4 separate regions of the Homo sapiens genome follow, and regions 2, 3 and 4 are each linked to region 1. The links come from fine-mapping of genetic effects on gene expression. A gene starts in region 1. Each other region holds a variant in brackets. All regions are shown on one strand. Distances are from middle to middle. Region 1 holds the start of IRAK3 (interleukin 1 receptor associated kinase 3). Region 2 overlaps TMBIM4 (transmembrane BAX inhibitor motif containing 4). Region 3 overlaps IRAK3 (interleukin 1 receptor associated kinase 3). Region 4 overlaps IRAK3 (interleukin 1 receptor associated kinase 3).

Region 1 (5,151 bases):
AACCATGATGATACAACCTGATGATATAAAAATCAAAACTCAAGACAGTTTTAGGAATAGGAAGGCAACATGGTCTGAGAACGACTGCCAACACTGAAAATACAGGAAATTTCACATACTCTAGCTTTCACTTAGGATCCTTGCTTCTTGGTAAATTACAAGATCTGGTAAAGCAGGCCTTTCTGATTGCTTCCCTCATCTGCAGTGATTTCCTGTTTCCTCTGAGTGAGTTTGCCTCCCTGTAGTAGCAATTCAAAAGCTACCAAATAATTAATGGCCTTTTGCCTCTGTTGCTCAGCATGTTCAGGTAGTCCCTTTAAGAGATGTATAGAGGGCCGGGTGTGGTGGCTCATGCCTGTAATCCCAGAACCTTGGGAGGCCTAGGGAGGTGGATCACTTGAGCCCAGGAGTTTGAGACCAGATTGAGCAACATGGGAAAACCCCGTCTCTACAAAAACTACAAAGGTTAGCCAGGCATGGTGGCATGCACCTGTAGTCCCAGCTGTACTGGAGGCTGAGGTGGGAGGATGGCTTGAGCCCAGGGGGTGGAAGTTGCAGTGAGCCGAGATCGCACCATTGCACCCCAACCTGGGCAATCAGAGCGACTAAAAAAAACAAATAAGAAAGAAAGGAGGGAAGGAAGGAAGAAAGGAGGGAAGGAAGGAAGGAAGGAAGGAAGGTAGGTAGGTGTACAGTGTGTACAGATTGACAATAAAACCTTGAACAACGGGATATCGAAATTCTTGCCCACACAGTATGGGCTTTGCCAGTTTTCAGATACATTTTTATGAAGTATTTTCGCTGGCAAAACCATTCAGGTAGGGGCATGAAATGATAGTGTTTCATCACTCGTGATCTCTAGGGGCAGCTATTCCAAAGACTACAATCTGAGAGGTTTCAAAACACCTCTGGTGTTTTCACTTGATGGCCACTGCCCACTCTTCCAGTCACTAAGGCTGAGATTTTTCTCACCACTTTCAAAACAACTTTTTGTCACTGGTAACATGCCTCATGTGACCTAGAAGATTTTGAAACAACAATTTTACTTAAACTCCGTGAAGATTTCAAAACAACAATTTTACTTAAACTCCATGTTGAAGGCAAAAAGGAAGATTGTGTGAAGCACTTTGAGGAAGGAAAAAATGATGGAACGATATTTCATCAAGGAAGCCCATGAGGAAGAAAATTTATTAAAACCAAGTAGGTGTATGGAGGAGAGGCCGCCTCGTGAAGAAAACGAACATAATTTTACGCTGATTTGGTGTCTTTTCTGTTTTTCTCTTGTTGGTATCTACATTCATCTTTTCCAATAATAATCCCATATATGTACATTTTTATCTGTTTAAATTCAGTAAAAGTTGGGAGGAAAATGTGTCAAAACTTTTAGAGTGTGATGGGCTGAGTGGGGTTGTGAGTGATTATCTTCTTTTTTCAGTTTTTTTCTGGGTTTTCCAAGTGTTCCTCGATGAACATGGATAGTTTTTCTGACAGGATAAAAAAGAAGTAGTCCGGGACAGTGGCTAACACCCCGAATCCCAGCACTTTGGGAAGCCGGAGGTGGGAGGATCGCTTGAGGCCAGGAGTTTGAAACCAGCCTGGGCAGCATAACGACACTCCCTCTCTACGAAAAACGAAAAAAAATAATTAGCCGGACGTGGTGGCGTGCGACTGTGGTCCCAGCTACTCGGGAGGCTGAGGTGGGAGGATCGCTTGAGCCCAATAGGTGGAGGCTCCGTGAGCTGAGATAGCGCCACTGCGCTCCTGCCTGGGCGACAGAGTGAGAACCTGACTCAAAACAAAGAAAAAAGGAAGAAAAGAAAGGAAGGGAAGAAGGAAGGAAGGGAGAAGCTTTCAAAAATAAACTTTTGTAAGAAGTAATGACACCGCTAGCCGTCCACACCAGGAGACCGCCTAGCCGTGGGGCACGGTGGGCTCCTGGGAGCTCTGAGCTCTGGGCTTTCTCCAGTTCGCACTCTGCTTGTCTCGGCAGCTCCGTCCCCACCGCAGAGGTGTGAAGGGGCGCAAAGCCAGCGAAGGGAGAACCCGGGTCGGGTAACCCCCAGGCCTGGCCAGGCGGACGCAGGGGCATCTCGGGCGAGGCGCGCCTTGCGTCACGTGGGCACCGCCCCTGCAGTGACCGGAGAACGGCGTGTTCCTAGGGCTCTGCTGCCGTCGTGGAAGCAGGATTTCCGCGGTTGTGTAACGGCCTGTCGCAGGCGTGCAGGGACCTGGACTCCGCCTCGTCCCCGGGGCTCGGGCAGCCGAGCCATGGCGGGGAACTGTGGGGCCCGCGGCGCGCTGTCGGCGCACACGCTGCTGTTCGACCTGCCGCCCGCGCTGCTCGGAGAGCTCTGCGCTGTTCTGGACAGCTGCGACGGCGCGCTGGGCTGGCGCGGCCTGGGTGAGTCGGCGGGGACCGGCCGGGGGCGGCGGGGGAGCCCAGCGCGCCGCGGGGCCCGCTCGGCGTCGCCCTGCATGGCTGGGGTCCCTCGCGGGGCTGGCGCGGCCTCCGGGAAGTTCCCGCCAGGGAGCCGGCCCCCTCCTTTCCTGGGTTGGATGCAGAGACTCCCTGGGACCCAGATGCCTTCCCTCCCTTCTCTTTCAAAGAATTTTGGGTATCGCTGCAAAGTCAAGGGAGCCGAGGCCTGGGAAAGACAGATAACCAGCGTGAAAGCATCTTCTGTTCGTCCGCGATGCCACCCTCACTGGGTTCGCAATGTATGATGTCTTCTGGTCCTTGCAAAATCACCCCAGAACATCATTTTAGTATTGAGACATTTTTAGAACTTTGAGATACTTATCCTTTGGTGTTTTCAATGCATCCCTAAGCCCCTAACTTAATTACAAGTGAAATGCTAAAGTAAACTACGGTTTGCAATGAACGCGGCTCCTAATTTTCTTAATTAAATCTTATTTACCCAATTTCGTTGAATGAAGGTTTATGCTAAAGGGTGGCTTTTTATTTTAATCTAAAAAAATTGGCTTCAGAACTGTATTTTATGCAGACATTGGAAAGTTGAGCAACTGCCTGCTGGAAGTGTTGAGTGTAGCCAGAGATAATTCGGACAAAAATCTTCGTTTTGTTAAGTACAGGCATTTTTGGTTAGATTTGATATTCCACAATGTCATGTTTAATGTTTATTGAAAAGAATCATGATTATGTCAAAATAACTTAGCTTTAATGGTCTGAAATAGGATTTTTCTTACCAGGACTAGCAGAAGGCCTAAGAGGAGAGTTTTCTTTGTTACTGATGAACAGTATGGTGACAGTCTTTGAATTGTAGCAATGGGCTTCTGGTTATACAAAAAATGTTTATATATTTTAAGCTCTGTAATTTTAAGTTATGGCCCTTAAGAAAAAAAAAAAAGTCTGATTTCTAGAAAACGAGATTTCCAGTGTGCATTTGAGGGATTTTGAGGGATAAGGTCACTTCCCCATCAGATCTTTTTGAGATGGATTTTGGCGTGGACAGTATTTATACCCGTTGATTTCCTAGAGTTACTGACTTTGAGAAAGAAAAGTGTTTTTAGTCCAGTTTAATGTTGGTGAATGGGGCCAGGTGGGTGTGGTAAATTAGTGAGGCAGATTATTCTCTCTCTTTCTGTTGATAGCATTGAAATCCAGATATTCATGCTTTACATGGCTTGTCTCATATAACTTCTCCAATTACTCTGTGAGTCATTATCATCGCCAGTGTTTTTTTAACAGGTCAGGAAACTGGTACAAATTGGTTAAGTAACTTGTTCAGGTTCACCAGCTGGAAATGGAAGAGCCAGGATCTGAACCATGGTAGTCTGGATCCAAGGCTTATGTCCTTAACCCCAGCTACTCTACACTTCTCCCCTTACTGCTGTGTTCTTTCTGGCCACATCTAACAGCCTCCCTAAAGTACAGACATTTCTGGCATCAAAGAACAATTCAGTGATCCATTTCAAGCATGCAGCCCTATTTTCCTAGTGGTGAAAATGAATGAGGACCACCCAAATGAGAACAAACAAAAGCTATTTTTTTCAAAGCAAGGGAGCCAGCACCATTGCTTGTGTTTGGCAGAGACTCAAAAGCAGACAGAGGATGGAGGAGGGTGGGAGAAGAAGGCTTCAGCTGTGTCCTGATTGGAGGCTGTTGATATGGGGAAGCTGTAGTTGAGCTACCTAAAAGGGGGTATTTTGTGTGTTTGTTTAGGGGTACATAATTGGCTTTCTCTGGTTGGCCCTAAGTTGGAAGTAGGAGCAAAAATTGAGGAAGTGGTCAGTAATTATTCAAGTCCTGGCCATTTGAGACAGGTTGCTACAGGGGTTCTTGTTTGGCTGCCTGGGCTAGTTGCTACAGTTTAACCCAGTTACTGATAGTTTAACTTGTTAGATACTGTAGACGGTAGGTTGGTTTCTTGGACTGGTTGATGTACATTGCCTGCAGAGTTCTATTTTTATATATAAGCTGGCCATTGTCCCTTTGTGTATTCATTCTCTCACAGGGAAAGGGTCTAAAATGTTTACTCCATGATACTTCAGCTGTAATTCATTGTGCAGGTGGTCATGCCTACTGACTGCCTGGACTACTGAGCTGGCCCTGACCAGGTGCTGCACAAGTTCTTGGCTCAGCAAGAAGGCAAGGCTAGCCCAGTTCAGGGTGTTGAGGCAACTGCCTGTGCTAAACATGCCGAGTTTTCCTGTGGGCACAGCGAAGGGAGAAAGAGGGGAAGAGGTGCAGGTAGGGAAAACTTGACCTTCGAGAGGGGAAGGAGAGTGACAGAGGACTGAATCAAAGAGGCAGTCCTTTGTATGCTCAGGACAGCTGACAGCCCAAGCTTAAATGTAGAAAACAACTGTAATATACTAAGTAAAGCTCTCTCGAGCCGATCGTGATTCTTGATGACGGTGAGTGTCAGGTTATGTTTACAAAGGCAGCTCATATAGCAGCCTATATGATATGACCAGTGTGTGCAGGATAAGGTAAGCCAGTCATTCACAAACACAAATCACCTATGCAGTCTTTTAAATACACAGATGCAGGTCCCACTCCTAGAGCTGCTGATTCAGGAAGTCTGGGTTGAGGGTCCAGCTTCTTTCATTTTTTGTCAAGCCCCAGGAGTGAGTCTGAGGCACAACCTGATTGGTAAGCCATTGCTTAGGCCAAATTCTCTTTTTTAA
Region 2 (5,151 bases), 35 kb before region 1:
AACAGCAAAATTAAGGCAGGACTGAAAGACATAATATTAAGTGTTTCAAGTTAAAGAAAAAATAGCATGAGCAGTATTATCAAATTTAATAAAATTTATCTATTTTATATGTTTATGAAAGTACAGGGGAAAAAATCTGGAATGATCCACACCAAACTATCAAATTATTTTATATCTGGAAAATTTGAGGAGTACAAGGTAGAAAGGAGCCTCAAGACAAAGAAAAGAGCCCAAAATGAATGGGGGAAACTTTTTCTTTTTACCATATAAACTTCTATCACATTTGAATAATGTTTGCAATTAGTATACTAATATTATACAATAAAGAAATTTAAAAATAACAACTACTTTCTTAGGATATTTGCCATATGGCTGTAATTTAAATTAAAGAATTTTACCTCACATAGCAAACTAATAGTTCAAGACTCCCCTTTGGTGGGGAGAAGGGAAGGGAGGACAGAAATTCTCTACTTCTATGAAAATATTCATTAGTTCTCCTTTCCTTTAATATAACAAAACTGTATCATGGAAATAATTATGATTCATCCCTGATTAAAGATCAGGGATGAATCATGTGGAGCTCTTTTGAAAACTTCTTGGTGAAATTATGCTAGTCATGAGCCAAAACTAAAATGAACGCACATTTATTTTTCAAGTACTGTCTTAGGCTTTGAGCACAGGGAATATAGTCTAATAAAGTTTTTAAAACTTAAGACTTTTAAAAATGGCATGCAGTAAAAATTCTTAATTTTTACCAAGGGTTTAACCCTAAGAAACTAAAGCTAAAAAGTTCAGAGGTAAATACCATGTTGTGGAGTATTTTTCTTCATCAAAAACAAAACTAATCAGGCTTATAAGAGTAAATGAACCTTTTTTACATTTTAACCTCAAAAGTTAATAGAAAAAAGTGGATTTTGTTTATAATATGCCTTTTTGATCATATGCAATGTCTGAAAATTATTCATTACCATCTCATTACCTTACCTCTCATGTACAAATGTCCGTACAGACTCAAAGTATAAAAAAACTGTTGAAGTCACTGTAGTTAAGAGAACCTGCAGAGAAAGAATGCTGTAGACTTTTCTCAGAAAGGCTAAAAGAGAAAAAAAATTACATTACTATTTTCTTAACCATTTATCATAGAACAGTAAAATCAAATTTCCTCTTTAAAAAATTGTTTTTTACACGTATTCTTTCCTAATTTTCCTCCTAATAATGTAATGTATAACTAAAACTAGACAAGAATACAAAGCTTCCAAAATAATTTAAAAATTGTAAGAGATATCTAAACCTCTCTCCAAAAAGCATGAGCCTAAAAAAAATTAGTGGGCCAAAATGTAAATGTTTTCATCAAAATGAAAAATGTATTAAATGCCTAGTTGTACACAGCAGGATACAACATAGCAAAAGACTAAAAGCAGAACATTTTAAAAGAATGATTATATCTTGAATCTGAAAAGGAGAAATAGAAAGCATATAAACGTTAAGTTTTTTTATGTCTTAATTTCAAAAATAGTAAAACTATTTCCCCCAAATGAAACTTATCCTGAAAAGGCAAGTAATATATAAACTTACTTTCACTCATCTATTATTATTTCTCATTTATAGTACCCCTGCCTCTAGTTTCTATACAATAGAAAATCCTTTCATATTTTGTTATCAATACCCAGAAATCACCTCTAAGGCTTAATGATTCAATGCTTATTATTAAAGTCTTCTGATATACAGTGATACAAATAATACAATGAACTTCCAAGAACTCATTACCACCTTCAGAAATAAAACATTAATAACAGTTCCCACCTTCTCTCTGTGATATCCCTCTCCCTTCACACTTCCGGCTAACTACAAATCATCTTTCAAGATGCAGCCTTTCTCAGTTCCGCATTCTGAATTAGATGTTTCTCCTTCATGTTCCTGAGGAACCCTAAACATACCATTAATCACTTTATAATTGATAAGTCTACTTGTCCTTCACCCCCATTAGACTGTAAAGACCGAAAGCTCCCTAATAATTGGGAAGAAGCCTAATTCATTTCCTTACCCCCACCACTCAGCCTAGTGGATGGCATTGCATAAACAGTCGTTAAATTTTATTTGCTTTTAAATAAACTTTCATTAAATTTATGAAGGGTAAATTTTACTAGTCAGGGAAGAGAAAAAGTATTATTCTGAAATGAAACAGAATAATGGAGCCACTGCTTAGAGGACTGTGCTTAGGCAGGCAATAAAAATCATGTTGAATGACTTTTACCCAACAAAAGAAAATGTGATGTTGTCTCTTGCCTATCATGGCAATGCTCATGGTAGATGAGCATTAGATGGTGGATGTTCCTTTTGAAAAACATTCCTACTAAAGACCTGGCTTTCCAAGGAAGGGTGAAGTGCTTTGATGGCATGTCAGCCAAATATCAAGTTAAAAAAACAAAATCTTTCACAGGAATAAGGGAATTTTCATGAATACTAAGGATTTAATAATCAAAATGCCTAAATATTAAACTTAATTTTTCCCTCTGGCACTCTTTCCAAAATCTAGAGTGAGTTTTTCCTGATGTCCTAAACAGATTTTACTGGGCATATGATTTAACCACTGACTCATAAGAACACTGAGTGTCCATTGTATTTTGGCTTAGAGATAAACAGTTCTCAACTCCACAACAGATCTATGACTTACTTTCTCAAAAAGGCCCTGATGTCTGAATGCTTTGGGAGGTCATTTCTATCTTTTTCATAAAAGCAGAGTAAAGAATATACTACTGGCATGGACAATGTTATTTGGGATATCTTTCTGCAAATTTAATTATTAAACCAAAGGTCAAGCCATTACACCTGCAAGGGATTTTCTGGGCTATGA[GAAA/G]AAAAATCATATTCTTTACACTACAGCCTCCATGTCCTGGATTCAAGCCATCCTCTAGACTCAGCCTCCCAAGCAGCTGGGAATACAGGCCCACACCAGGATGGGGTGTGTGTGCACACGTGTGAGAGAGAGAGAGAGAGAGAGAGAGGCAGGGTCTCACTCTGTCACCCAGGCTTAAGTGCAGTGGCATGATCATGATTCACTGCAGCCCCAATCTCCAGGGCTCAAGCAATTCTCCTAACTCAGCCTGCCCAGTAGCTAGTACTACAGGTGCATGCCACTACGCCCAGCTAATTTTTTTGTAGAGATGGGGTTTTACCACATTCCCGGGCTGGTCTTGAACCCCTGGGCTCAAGTGATCCACCCACCTTGGCCTCCCAAAGTGTTGGGATTACAGGCAGGAGCCACCGTGACTGGCCCTGGAATGTATTCTTTACTTTTGATACCCTATTATGTACCTCATATAACTCAAACCCAATCCATATGATATATATTCTCTCAAGCAGTGGAAATTAGTGTTATTTCTTACCATTTTGTAAAACTGATTTACAGTTCAAAACAATGTGCACATTAAGATCTAATGTTTATTTGTATATATGTACACAAGTGCATATGTAATAAAAGACTAGAATAATATACATCCAGGTGTTCGTATACCCTGGGCAGTAGTACTAAGGATAATTTTCATATTCAGTTCTTTACTAATCTGTATTTTTTAGATACCAGCAGTATGTATTACTATTGCAATTAAAAACATTTTAAAGAAACTCGTGCTAAGCCTTTAAGTTCATACTAAAAAATTCTCCTTATGCAGATATTCCAGACCATAACTTTTTCTATACTTTAGTATCATAAGCCAAATCCCAGGCAAAAGCAGTATTGACACCCATTGTGAATAATATAAAAAGTAGCAAAGGACATGCATATACAGCTTTCAGGAAAATATAAAAGATTCAATATGAAAAGAATACTAGTCAAACAGCAAGATTTTCCAATTTTTGTTGAGTCCTGATTTCTTCCCTTCTATTTGACATCTCAAAACTTAACATGGCCAAAACTGGAGCTCTTCATTTATCCAAATTTGCTGTTCTCCCAGTGTTCTCATCGATAACCAGCACCAACATCATCCAAGCCAAAAACATAGAAGTCATCTTTGATTACCCCCTCCCTGTTCCCAATCTATCAGCAACTACTGTAGTTCTACCTTTGAAAGTACAACGTATCTGCCTCTTTTGGTCTCCTCTGTTACCTCCCTAGTCAAAGTGTGCCTAATCTCTCACCTGGACCACTGGAGGAACCTTCTGATTGGTCCCCATGCTTTCACTCTTGTCCCACCTATTTCTCCACACACTCTGTCAAAGTGATTTTTATGTAAAGTAAACCATATCATGTGACTCTGCTTAAATACTTAAATAATCGTTCCACTTAAAATAAAATGTGAAAGATTTTATAGGACCTACAAGGTCCCACATGATGTAGAACCTTTCCAATCTCATCTCAGCACTCTCTCTCTTCCTCACCATGCTTTACCCACATTAGTCACTTTCCCGCTTCAGGGCCTTTGCACTTGCTCTTTCCTCTACTTGGAATGCCCTTATCATTCTTTACATGAAGTAGTGGTTTATGGTAAGTCACAGTTCTTTGACACTCCCTTCAAGTGAGTCCTAACAAAAAGAATGATGCAAAAGTGGCAGGGTGCTACTTCTAAGACCAAGTCATAAAAGGGATTATGGCTTCCTCCTGCTCTTTCTTGGATCATTTCCTCTGGGACAGTGTTTCTCAACCTTGTTTTCATTATTCCCCGCCTAAGTAGCCTTCTAGGTACTTTTTTCCTAATAGCCCCCTCAATAAAATTTTAATGCCACAAATATACTATATATCTGTTGTACCATCGCCCTTTGGAAGGATATACACCATTATAAAATCTTAAGATTTTTTTTAGATCTTTACATCCAACTATCATCTAATGGGGTCAATAGCACCCCATTAAGAATGCATACTCAGGGAAGGCCAGCTATGTTGTGAGGAAACTAAGGGCACCCTATGGAAAAACACATGTGGGAGGAAAGTGAGGTCTCCTGCCAACAGCCAGTGAGAAACTAGGGACTCCTATGAATAGCCCTGTGAGTAGCCTGCCTGGGAGCACATCCTTCACCCCCAGTCAAGCCTCCAGATGACCAGCACTAGCCAATATCTTGACCACAACCTAGGACAAACTCTAAACTAAAACTACCCATATTCCTGACTCTCAGAAACTGAGATAATGTTTATTCTTTTAAACCAATAAGGTTTAG
Region 3 (5,151 bases), 51 kb after region 1:
AGAGACTTTTCACCTGGCATCAACGCCTGCTGAATAACTTGTTAGCAATCCTCCCAGCAAGCCTGAGTTCAGGTATTACAGTTATTATCTCCATTTGATAGAGGAGAAAGCTGAGGCTTACAGAGATTAGTGACTGGCCTCTGTCTCATGGCTGTAGAAGGGAAAAGGGAGGTTGCATTCCATGTTTGTGTGAGTCCAATCATCATGCACTTTTTAAGGAATTAAAGGTCTGGGATTAATGGAAGCATGTTGGCGTCATCAGCAGAGACAGGGAAATTGGGAAGGAGAGGAGAGCATAATTAGTGTGCAGAAACTTGGAAATGCTGACATTGGACTCCTGGCAGAAGCAAGAGGCATTGAAGAGGAGATCGGGCCTGGAAAGCGGTGAGAGTAGATAGCTTTCTAAGGAAGAAGCTGTCAAAGACACAGCTCAGAAACACCCACAGGAGAAGCAGTGCCCATGTTTCCAAGGTGTTTTCAACAAGTCTGGGGGTTTATTTAGCTAAAAAATGTCTTAGTAATTTGAACTCTTCAAAGAGAATGTTATAAAAACAAAACCTGCTTCCAGGTGGTGGAATTTGAGAAGGAAAGGACTTAAAGAAAAGAATCTTGAAAAGTTGCAGCCTATATTCTTGGCCAAAGACCCTCACATTTTTATTGGAGAAACGAAGATGTTTTTGACTTACAGGATCACTTAAAAGCATCTGAAGGCAGTAAACTTCCTTGTTATTTCCCTCCTAGCCCTTAGTGAGCTTAATTGTTTTCACATTTATGAACTATTTTAAATGGAAATGCATTTTATCCTTAGCATTTTCCATCCCAGACATTTCATTCCTGCTAATGTTTCCAAAGCAAAGAGATAATCTTGGTGAACATTTCTAATGTTTCCTATAAAATCATGTTCTTTAATCAGTATTGCCATTTGTCTCCTGCCAAGTGAAACAGTCTTTCATACAAGGGAAATGGTCTAGGAAAGAAACAAAGAAGAAGCCATTTGCTTCAAAATGGACTTTTTTTTTTTTTTAATGGAAATTGATCAGAGATGTAAGGTCAGAGTGAGTGAGTGCATGGGTAATTTCCTCTCCAAAAGACTAGAAAAACTGAGTGGTTGGGAAGAGGGCATAGGGGGCCACAGATTGGCCCCTCCCTGCCACCAGGACACCCTTGCCTGAAGACCCAGGCTCCTCCTGCCTTTATCCCCAGACGGGAAGGTTGGAGCCCAGCTCAGTGTTTAACAGGCATGTCAAAGCCTACAGGGAATGCAAAGTGTCTTTCTTTGTTTGACTGATAAGATTCTTTAATCAGTCTCCTCCCTTTCCCTCATAACCCCCTCAAAAAGCCTATTTTTATCTTTCAGAAAAATTTTAGATATATATAATTCTTTTTCCTCAGATTTTTCCTGTTTTCCCCCAGTGCCTCCCCTCTTCTAAAATATCCAAATATGATTTTTTCTAAGGGATGCCAAAACAATTAAATATGACATAAATTAAAATTTCCCCTATTAATTCTATTTGCCACCACTCTAATCCCCAACATTCATTTACTTATATACATAGATACATACACATATGCACGGTACATGCCAGTTTTTTTCTGTCTCTCCATTGTCTTAAAATGTCTGGAAAATACGTTTGCCCAGAACTTCCTGGAACTATTTGAAACTCAGCCAATTTGTTGGCATTAACTAACTGAAGGGTCCTCAGATTTCCAGGGACATCCTACAACCCCCTGTATTTTTGTTCCTTGAGTTGGTGTCTTTGGACTTCTAGAGACATGCAACCAAGCCTTTTGGGATTTTAAGGTAAGGTAATGGACATAGGATGGACAATGGCCAGCCTATATCCTTTAAAGCATACTTTGAGCCCTCTGTGAGTGTCACTCCTTACGTTTTCTCATTTAATACTGGTAAGAACCCCGTGAAGTAAGCAGTATCAGATCTTTATACCAACAGGGAAACAGGCTTAGGGGGGTTGTGCTAGTTGTGGGTAGATTTGGAGTTTCACAATTAAAGGAGGAACACCCATTACTGGGCCTTTGCACCGAGTGCCTAGACTCAGAAGGCACCAACAAGCAAAAACAAGCTTGAATACTGTGTCTCTCAGACCTGCCTAGGTTCAGTGGGGATGAAAAAGAAAGCTCCGCAGTCCCACAGGGGAATAAAGGGTTTCAGATTTGTAGCATTCCAGGCAGGATGCAGTGCACACTTAAGTTGGGGTGGGGTGCACAACTGTTTTAGTAGCCTGCAGGTTCTAGGAGAAACTGAGTCTTGCCTCATCTGGTTAGGGGAGGCAGGGCATCTGGTGAGGGGTGTCTCAGTGTTGCAACAGCCGTAATACAGACAGCAC[A/T]TGTGTGCTGTTGCCTCAGGCTGTCCCAGAGGGGCCGTTGGGTCCTCTTTATCTCTGGAGCCAATCTGTGGCTCCCTGCCCCCTCTTCCCCAGGTCCTTCTGTGGAGTCCTGGCCTTTCCTGAGAGTTTCCAGGCACCCAGGCGCTGGACTGCTGGACCCATATATATACTATATATATACCCACATATATATATATATAAAATATATCGGTATATATATTATATATATGTGGGTATATATATCTCTCTCTCTTTAAAAACCAATCATGCTCTTTCATGCCAAATATGGTATTTTCACTTGAATTCAAATCCTGCATTATAATCTAGGTGGAGCATCTTGTCTTATGTTTAAGGTCCAAGGGATTGAACTTAATTAGGAGATAAACTGGTGAGCAAAGAAAGCAATTCTCATTACAAAGTAGCATTTGTTTGGGGGATTCAGGTCCCCCCGAAAATTGTCCTAGAGACCCCTACTAATAGAGAGATTAAGTAACATCCTAGAGTCAGGTTACAAACTCATCATCTGTGTAGGATTCTCCATACTTCCTCAGTGTACAACCAATGATCATTCTGTTAAAGGAATTATCTGGAGAGGGGATGGCCTCTCTGTTAAGGTAAATAGCCTTGTGATAAAGAGTAGAACAAATCGATTGTAGAAGCATGAAATTGAGGATATGAACCATGGATATGGGTCAAAGATGTCTTTTATCTATCTCTTTGGTGGCCACAGTTGCTTGCAGGCTGCCCTTTTGCATGATATTGCCATGACTGTAGTTGTGTTAGGTTCTTAATTTTGTTAGTTTATTTTCACCCCACAGGATTAACTTACTCAGCTGACCTGCATGGAAGCTGAAGACACTTTGTGTTTGAACATTCTATTTAAGGTTGAAGCAGGGGAAAAGAATTAAGGTAGAAATTGATCGTTGAAGGGCCTTTTGCAATTTCCGCTTTCCTAAAACAGAACATCCTTCTTCCTCAGCTACCGCTAACCTTTATTTAGAACAGAATAAATCACTGGACTCAAAATTTATGTTATACACTAAAGTCAGCTGAAAAACGACTTATCTTTTCACCGATTGTCATTATTCAAATTGTAAATTCAGTACCCTAGAATAATTTCACATCTTGTTGATGGCCTTTCACTGACCCAAAGTCCTCTCTGGGTTTTATGGTGTAAGCATTGTTTGTGGTTACTCAACTCCCTTCTGCCCAACTTTCACAGAAGCTGACTCACCATTTGCTGAAAGCATCCCACCAGCTTTGCTATGGGTCAAATAAAGAATTAGATTGAAGGTTTTGTTGTTATTACTGTTGCTCTTTTCTCCCTTTTTGTACTTAAAAGATTCAGGGTTTTTTTGTGTGTGTGTGTGTGTTTCAAAAATTCAGCTTTTGCAGTCTCATGATTCTGGCATTGTCAATTATAATTCTATGCCTTTTTTTAGAGCTGTGATAGAGGAAGATGTTTAGGTGTTTGACATTGAATATCTGCCATTCAGAACATTCCCACCCTCCCCCTGTGCTGAAATGAAATGGGGCATGCAGAAGTGACTCCAAAGTTGAAGGGCAGAAGGTGGGGTCCTGGCAATGAAGGTTGGAGAACCTTTTTTTCCCACCTCGCCTCCTGGCCCACCGGCAAACTCCTGCATTCAAATGCCCCCAGGACTCTGAAACCCTCAGGGCATCTCCAGGAGCCTCAGACTTGATCTGATCCATTGAAGAGTCAACCTAGGGAAGAAGTGATTATGAACTGACAGTCTCTTCTTATCTAGAGCTGGAGAGAAGTCGGATCTGACTCTAGTCTGTTCCTCATCTGAGGTATGTCAGGATAGTCAACAGTTCTCCAAGTGAGAAAGTAAGAGTGGGTGAGGAGTGACAGATGGGGGTGTGTGAGGCCCAGGCTGGCTTTAGCAGCTGCTGGGTTCTCCAGGGAGAAGGGAGAAGGCAAGGAGAGAAATGACAACTGTGCTCATTGATACGAGCCTTGGGAACCAGGCCTCTCTGACCTTCCTTCCATAAATGCTAAGAGCACACAGCTGATAAGAGGCCCTAGAGCTCAGAAGGTGGGCTTTTTGGATTTTACAATTCCCTTGCCACCCTTAGCGGAAGGAGGAGTGAAATAAAGTTTAAAATGTGTCTTTATCCTTAAAAGACCGCGGGGTCTGGGCGCAGTAGCTCATGCCTGTAATCCCAGCACTTCGGGAGGCCGAGGCGGGTGGATCACCTGAAGTCAGAAGTTCAAGACCAGCCTGGTCAACATGGTGAAACTCCATCTCTACTAAAAATTAGCCGAGTGTAGTGGCAGGCGCCTGTAATCCCAGCTACTCAGGAGGCTGAGGCAGGAGACTCACTTGAACCCGGGAGGCAGAGGTTGCAGTGAGCTGAGATCGTGCCAATGCGCTCCAGCCTGGGGGACAAGAATGAAACTTTGTCTCGAAAAAAAAAAAAAGACCACCGGAAGTGCCTTTGTTTTTTCTGTTGTCAACTCAGCCCTAGACAAAGTCTGGACTAGAATCTTTAAGGCCTTAGCTTCATACATTGAACTGTTTCCCCCAAACTCTCTAAATAGAAGTAGGACTCTGAGTCCTCTGAACAGTAAGAACACTTGCAGTTCAGACCTATGGAACTGGGGCCTGCCCGTTAACCTACCTGTATAGGGATAGCAAAGACTTCTGGAGCTTTTGTAAGATCCAAAATTTGTTCAGAATTAAGAACTTCTTGATATCCCGTGGCTGTTGCTGTAGCACTTTTAGTAACAGCATGTCGTACTACAAATATGCCTCTTGGCATTTTGGATGGGAAGGTGTAC
Region 4 (5,151 bases), 32 kb after region 1:
TGTTGGAAATGGCAGGATTTTCTTCTTTTTATGGCTGAATAATATTCCATCGTGTGTGTGTGTGTGTATGTGTGTGTGTGTGTGTGTCTCACACTTTATTCTTTATCCATTCCTCTGTCAATGGACATTTAAGTTGTGTCTATGTCTTGGTTACTGTGAATAATGCTGCATTAAACATGAGAGTGCAGATATCTCTTTGAGATACTGATTTTATTTCTTTTACATACGTACCCTGATATGGTTTGGTTCTGTGTCCCCACCCAAATCTCATCCTGAATATACTCCCATAGTTCCCATGTGTTGTGAGAGGGACCTGGTCGGAGATTATTGAATCACGGGGGCAGTTTCTCCCATACTGTTCTTGTGATAGTGAATAAGTCTCACAAGATCTGATGGTTTTAAAAAGGGGAGTTTCTCAGCACATGCTCTGTTCTTTTGTCTGCCGCCATGTGAGATGTGCTTTTTATCTTCCACCATGATTGTGGGGCATCCCCAGCCACATGGAACTGTAAGCCCATTAAACCTCTTTCTTTTGTAAATTGCCCAGTCTCAGGTATGTCTTTATCAGCAGCATGAAAATGGACTAATACATACCCAGAAGTGAGATTGTTGGATCTTATGGTAGTTGTATTTTCAGTTTTTTAAGGAACCTCCATTATGGCTGTACCACTTTATATTCCAACCAACAGCATACAAGGACTTCTTTTTCTCCATACCCTCAGCAACTCTTGTATCACTTGTCTTTTTGATAATAGCCATCCTAATAAGTGTGAGGTGATATCTCATTGTGGTTTTGATTTGCATTTTTCTGATGATTAGTGATGTTAAGCATCTTTTCATATACCTCTTAGTCATTGGTATGTCTTCTTTGAAAAACTATCTCTTTGGGTCATTTGCCCATTTTTATCAGGTTATTTGCTTTTTTGCTATTGAATTGTATGAGTTCCTCACTATTTTGTATCTTAACACCTTATTAGATATATGGTTTGCAAGTATTTTCTCCCATTCCATAGGTTTCCATTTCATTTTGTTGATTGTTTCCTTTGTTGTGCAGAAGCTTTTTAGTTTGATATAGTTCCACTTGTTCATTTTTGCTTTTGTCACCTATGCTTTTTGTGTCATAGCCAAAAAATCATTGCCAAGACCAATGTCAAGGTAAATTTTCCCTATGTTTTCTTCCAGATTTGTATGGTTTCAGATCTTACATTTAAGTATTTAATCCATTTTGAGTTAATTTTTGTATATGGTGTAAGACAAAGGTCCAATTTTATTATTTTGTATGTGGGTATTCAGTTTTCCCAACACCATTTATTGAAGATAATTTTCTTCTTCTGTTGTATATTCTTGGTGCCCTTTTCAAAGATTAGTTGATGATATATATGTAGGTTTATTTCTGTTATTTTTTTTTTTAAATTCTATTCCATTGGTCAATGAGTCTGTTTTTATGCCGGTGCCATACTGTTTTTATTACTATAGCTCTGTAATATAGTTTGAAATCAGGACGTGAATGCCTCTGGCTTTGTTCTTCTTTCTTTTTTTTTTTTTTTTTTTTTTTTGAGACGGAGTCTCGCTCTGTCGCCCAGGCTGGAGTGCAGTGGCGGGATCTCGGCTCACTGCAAGCTCCGCCTCCCGGGTTCACGCCATTCTCCTGCCTCAGCCTCCCAAGTAGCTGGGACTACAGGCGCCCGCCACTACGCCCGGCTAATTTTTTGTATTTTTAGTAGAGACGGGGTTTCACCGTTTTAGCCGGGACGGTCTCGATCTCCTGACCTCGTGATCCGCCCGCCTCGGCCTCCCAAAGTGCTGGGATTACAGGCGTGAGCCACCGCGCCCGGCCTGTTCTTCTTTCTTAAACTCACTTACTGTTTTGGGTCTTTCATGGTTCTATATAAATTTTAGCATTTTTCTTCTATTTTTGTGAAAAATGGCATTGGAATTTTGATAGAAATGTGTTGAATGTGTAGCTCACTTTGAGTAGTATGGACATTTTAACAATATTAATTCTTTCAATTCAGGTATGTAATGCATCTTTCCATTTATTTGTGTCTTCTTCAGTTTCTTTCATCAGTGTCCTATAGTTGTTAACGCACAAAATTTTCACCTCCTTGGTTAAATTTATTCCTAAGTGTTTTATTCTTTTTAATGCTGTTGTAAATAGGATCATTTCCTTAATTTCCTTTTCAGATTGTTCATTGTTAGCATATAGACACATAGTTGATTTTTATATGTTGATTTTGTATTATGCAACTTTTCTGAATTTGTTTATTGTTCTAACAGTTTTTTTGGTGGAGTCTTTTGGGTTTTCATCATGTCATCTGTAGACAGAGCCACCTTTAACTTGCACCTTTCCAATTAGGATGCTTTTATTTCTTTTTTATTGCCTAATTGCTCTGGCTAGGACTTCCAGCTCTATCTTGAATAGAAATGGAAAGGGTGGGCACACTTATCTTTTTCCTGAACTTAGAGGAAAAGCATTCAGCTTTTCACTGTTAAGGTATGATGTTAGCTGTGGGTTTGTCATATATGGCATTTATTACATTGAGATACATTCCTTCTATACCTAATTTGTTGAGAGTTTTTATCATGAAAGGATGTTGAATTTTATCAAATGCTTTTGCATTTGTTGAGATGGTTTTGTGATTTTTATTTTTCAGTCTGTTAATATGGTGTATCATTTACATATTTGCACATGTTGAACCATCCTTGCTTCTCAGGGATAAGTCCTGTTTGACTCTGGTATTTCATCCTATTAATGTTCTGTTGAAGACTGGGCACAGGGGCACATGCCTGTAATCCCAGCACTTTGGGAGACCAGGAAGGTGGGTCACCTGAGGTCAGGAGTTCAAGACCAGCCTGGCCAACATGATGAAACCCCATCTGTACTAAAAATATAAAAATTAGCCAGGTGTAGTGGTGCACGCTTGCAATCCCAGCTATTCAGGAAGCTGAGGCACAAGAATTGCTTGAACCCGGGAGGCGGAGGTTGCAGTGGGCTGAGATCATGCCACCACACTCTAGCCTGGGCAACAGAGCAAGACTCGATCTCCA[A/AAAAC]AAACAAACAAACAAACAAACAAAAAATGTTCTGTTGAATTTAGCTTGCTAAATTTGTTGAGGATTTTTGTATCTATGGCCATCATGGATATTGGCATATAACGTTTTCTCATTGTGTTCTTATCTGGCTTTGATATGAGGGTAATGCTGGCCTACTAAAATAAGTTTGACAGTGTTCCCTCGTCTTTAATTTTTTAAAAGATTTTGACAGGGATTAGTATTAATTCTTCTTTAAATGCTTGTTAGAATTTACCCAGAATCTCTATGGTCCTGGACTTTTCTTCGTTGGGAGGTTTTTGATTATTTAATCAATCTCCTTGGTTGTTATTGGTCTGTTTAGGTTTTCTATTTCTTCATGATTCAGTCTTGGTGGATTGTATGTTTCTAGGAATCCATCTATTTCTTTTAAGTTTTCCAGATTGTTGGCATACGATAGTTCATAATAGTCTCTTATGATCCTTAGTGTTTCTGTGGTATCAGTTGTAATGTCGCCTCTTTCATTTATATTTTATTTATTTGAGGCCTCTCAAAAAAACAAGTCTCATAGTATCAATTTTTCTGAGAGATATTAATAATCCTTTTATATATTTAAGAGATATATTTTATTTTCTATGAAGTAGCTTATAATATTCCTTACCTATTTTTTAAAATTAGGCTTTTTTTAGTGGTTCAAAGGAATATTTTATAATTCCTATTAGAAAATCAGCCTATTTTTATGTTATGAGACGCAAATAATTTTTTACCATACTGTCATTTCATCTTTGCTTATTATAGTTTTGACATGTAGAAATGGTTTTAATATAGGTAATTTCACTCGCGTCTGTGTGAAGAGACCACCACACAGGCTTTGTGTGAGCAATAAAGCTTTTTAATCACCTGGGTGCAGGCGGGCTGAGTCCGAAAAGAGAGTCAGCGAAGGGAGATAGGGGTGGAGCCGTTTTATAGGATTTGAGTAGGTAAAGGAAAATTACAGTCAAAGGGGGGTTGTTCTCTGTGGGGCAGGAGTGGGGTGTCACAAGGTGCTCAGTGGGGGAGCTTTTTGAGCCAGGATGAGCCAGGAGAAGGAATTTCACAAGGTAATGTCATCAGTTAAGGCAAGGACCGGCCATTTTCACTTCTTTTGTGGTGGAATATCATCAGTTAAGGCAGGAACATGCCATTTAAATATCACTTCTTTTGTGATTCTTCAGTTACTTCAGGCCATCTGGATGTATACATGCAGGTCACAGGGGATGCAATAGCTTAACTTGGGCTCAGAGGCCTGACAGTTAAGTTTATCAATGTTTTCTTTTGCGGATTCCAGATTTTATGTTATAGTTTTTGCCATTAAAAGTTATCATGGTTTGAGGCCAGGCGCGGTGGCTCACGCCTGTAATCCCAGCACTTTGGGAGGCCGAGGCAGGCGGATTATGAGGTCAGGAGATCAAGACCATCCTGGCTAACACTGTGAAACCCCGTCTCTACTAAAAATACAAAACATTAGCCAAGCATGGTGACGGGCGCCTGTAGTCCCAGCTACTCGGGAGGCTGAGGCTAGAGAATGGCGTGAACCCAGGAGGCAGAGCTTGCAGTGAGCTGAGTTCACGCCACTGCACTCCAGCCTGGGCAACAGAGCGAGACTCCGTCTCAAAAAAAAAAAAAGTTATCATGGTTTTTGCCATTAAAAGTAAACATTACTTTTTTTTATTTTTATTTTTTTTTGAGACGGAGTCTTGCTCTGTCACCTAGGCTGGGGTGCAGTGATGTCATCTCAGCTCACTGCAAGCTCTTCCTCCTGGGTTCACGCCATTCTTCTGCCTCAGCCTCCCGAGTAGCTGGGCAAAAACCGCAGTAATTTTTGCACCAATCTAATAAAATAATTCTCCCATTTTTTCCCAGTACTTTCATGGTTTCATTTTTTACATTTATTTGTCTGATCCATTTATTTGTCTGGTGAGGTGTTTTCTGTGAACTACAACAACAGCTTGTCTAGGTTTCAAAAATTCTATCGGCATTTTTAATGCAATTTTAATAACTTTATAGATTAATCTGGAGATATTTACAATTTTATAATGTTGGCTATTCCTGGGGTACCATTTTTATTTTGCTAATATTTATTTTGTG

What was found. PIP is the estimated chance that this variant, and not a neighbour inherited with it, causes the effect.
Region 2: its variant is the best candidate, but not a certain one, in a credible set for the expression of IRAK3 in whole blood (TOPMed, PIP 0.50).
Region 3: its variant is the best candidate, but not a certain one, in a credible set for the expression of IRAK3 in whole blood (INTERVAL, PIP 0.73).
Region 4: its variant is the best candidate, but not a certain one, in a credible set for the expression of IRAK3 in whole blood (TOPMed, PIP 0.79).

Annotation. Positions count from the first base shown.
Region 1 is chr12:66,187,032-66,192,182 of GRCh38, forward strand. It overlaps IRAK3 (interleukin 1 receptor associated kinase 3), which reads left to right and starts at 2,183. Exons shown (of 12, transcript NM_007199.3): 1 at 2,183-2,401. The coding sequence starts at 2,269. RefSeq lists silencers at 2,288-2,337, 2,358-2,517.
Region 2 is chr12:66,152,356-66,157,506 of GRCh38, forward strand. TMBIM4 (transmembrane BAX inhibitor motif containing 4) reads right to left here. Exons shown (of 7, transcript NM_016056.4): 2 at 985-1,093; 3 at 1-21. Among named protein-coding and RNA genes, the nearest start is that of TMBIM4, 15 kb to the right of the region's middle. The variant GAAA/G (reference allele first, on the strand shown) is at 2,855.
Region 3 is chr12:66,238,290-66,243,440 of GRCh38, forward strand. All of the region lies in intron 8 of IRAK3 (interleukin 1 receptor associated kinase 3), which reads left to right. Among named protein-coding and RNA genes, the nearest start is that of MIR6502, 10 kb to the right of the region's middle. The variant A/T (reference allele first, on the strand shown) is at 2,346.
Region 4 is chr12:66,218,983-66,224,133 of GRCh38, forward strand. The region is part of intron 6 of IRAK3 (interleukin 1 receptor associated kinase 3); the gene reads left to right. Among named protein-coding and RNA genes, the nearest start is that of MIR6502, 30 kb to the right of the region's middle. RefSeq lists enhancers at 3,783-4,284, 4,285-4,784. The variant A/AAAAC (reference allele first, on the strand shown) is at 3,049.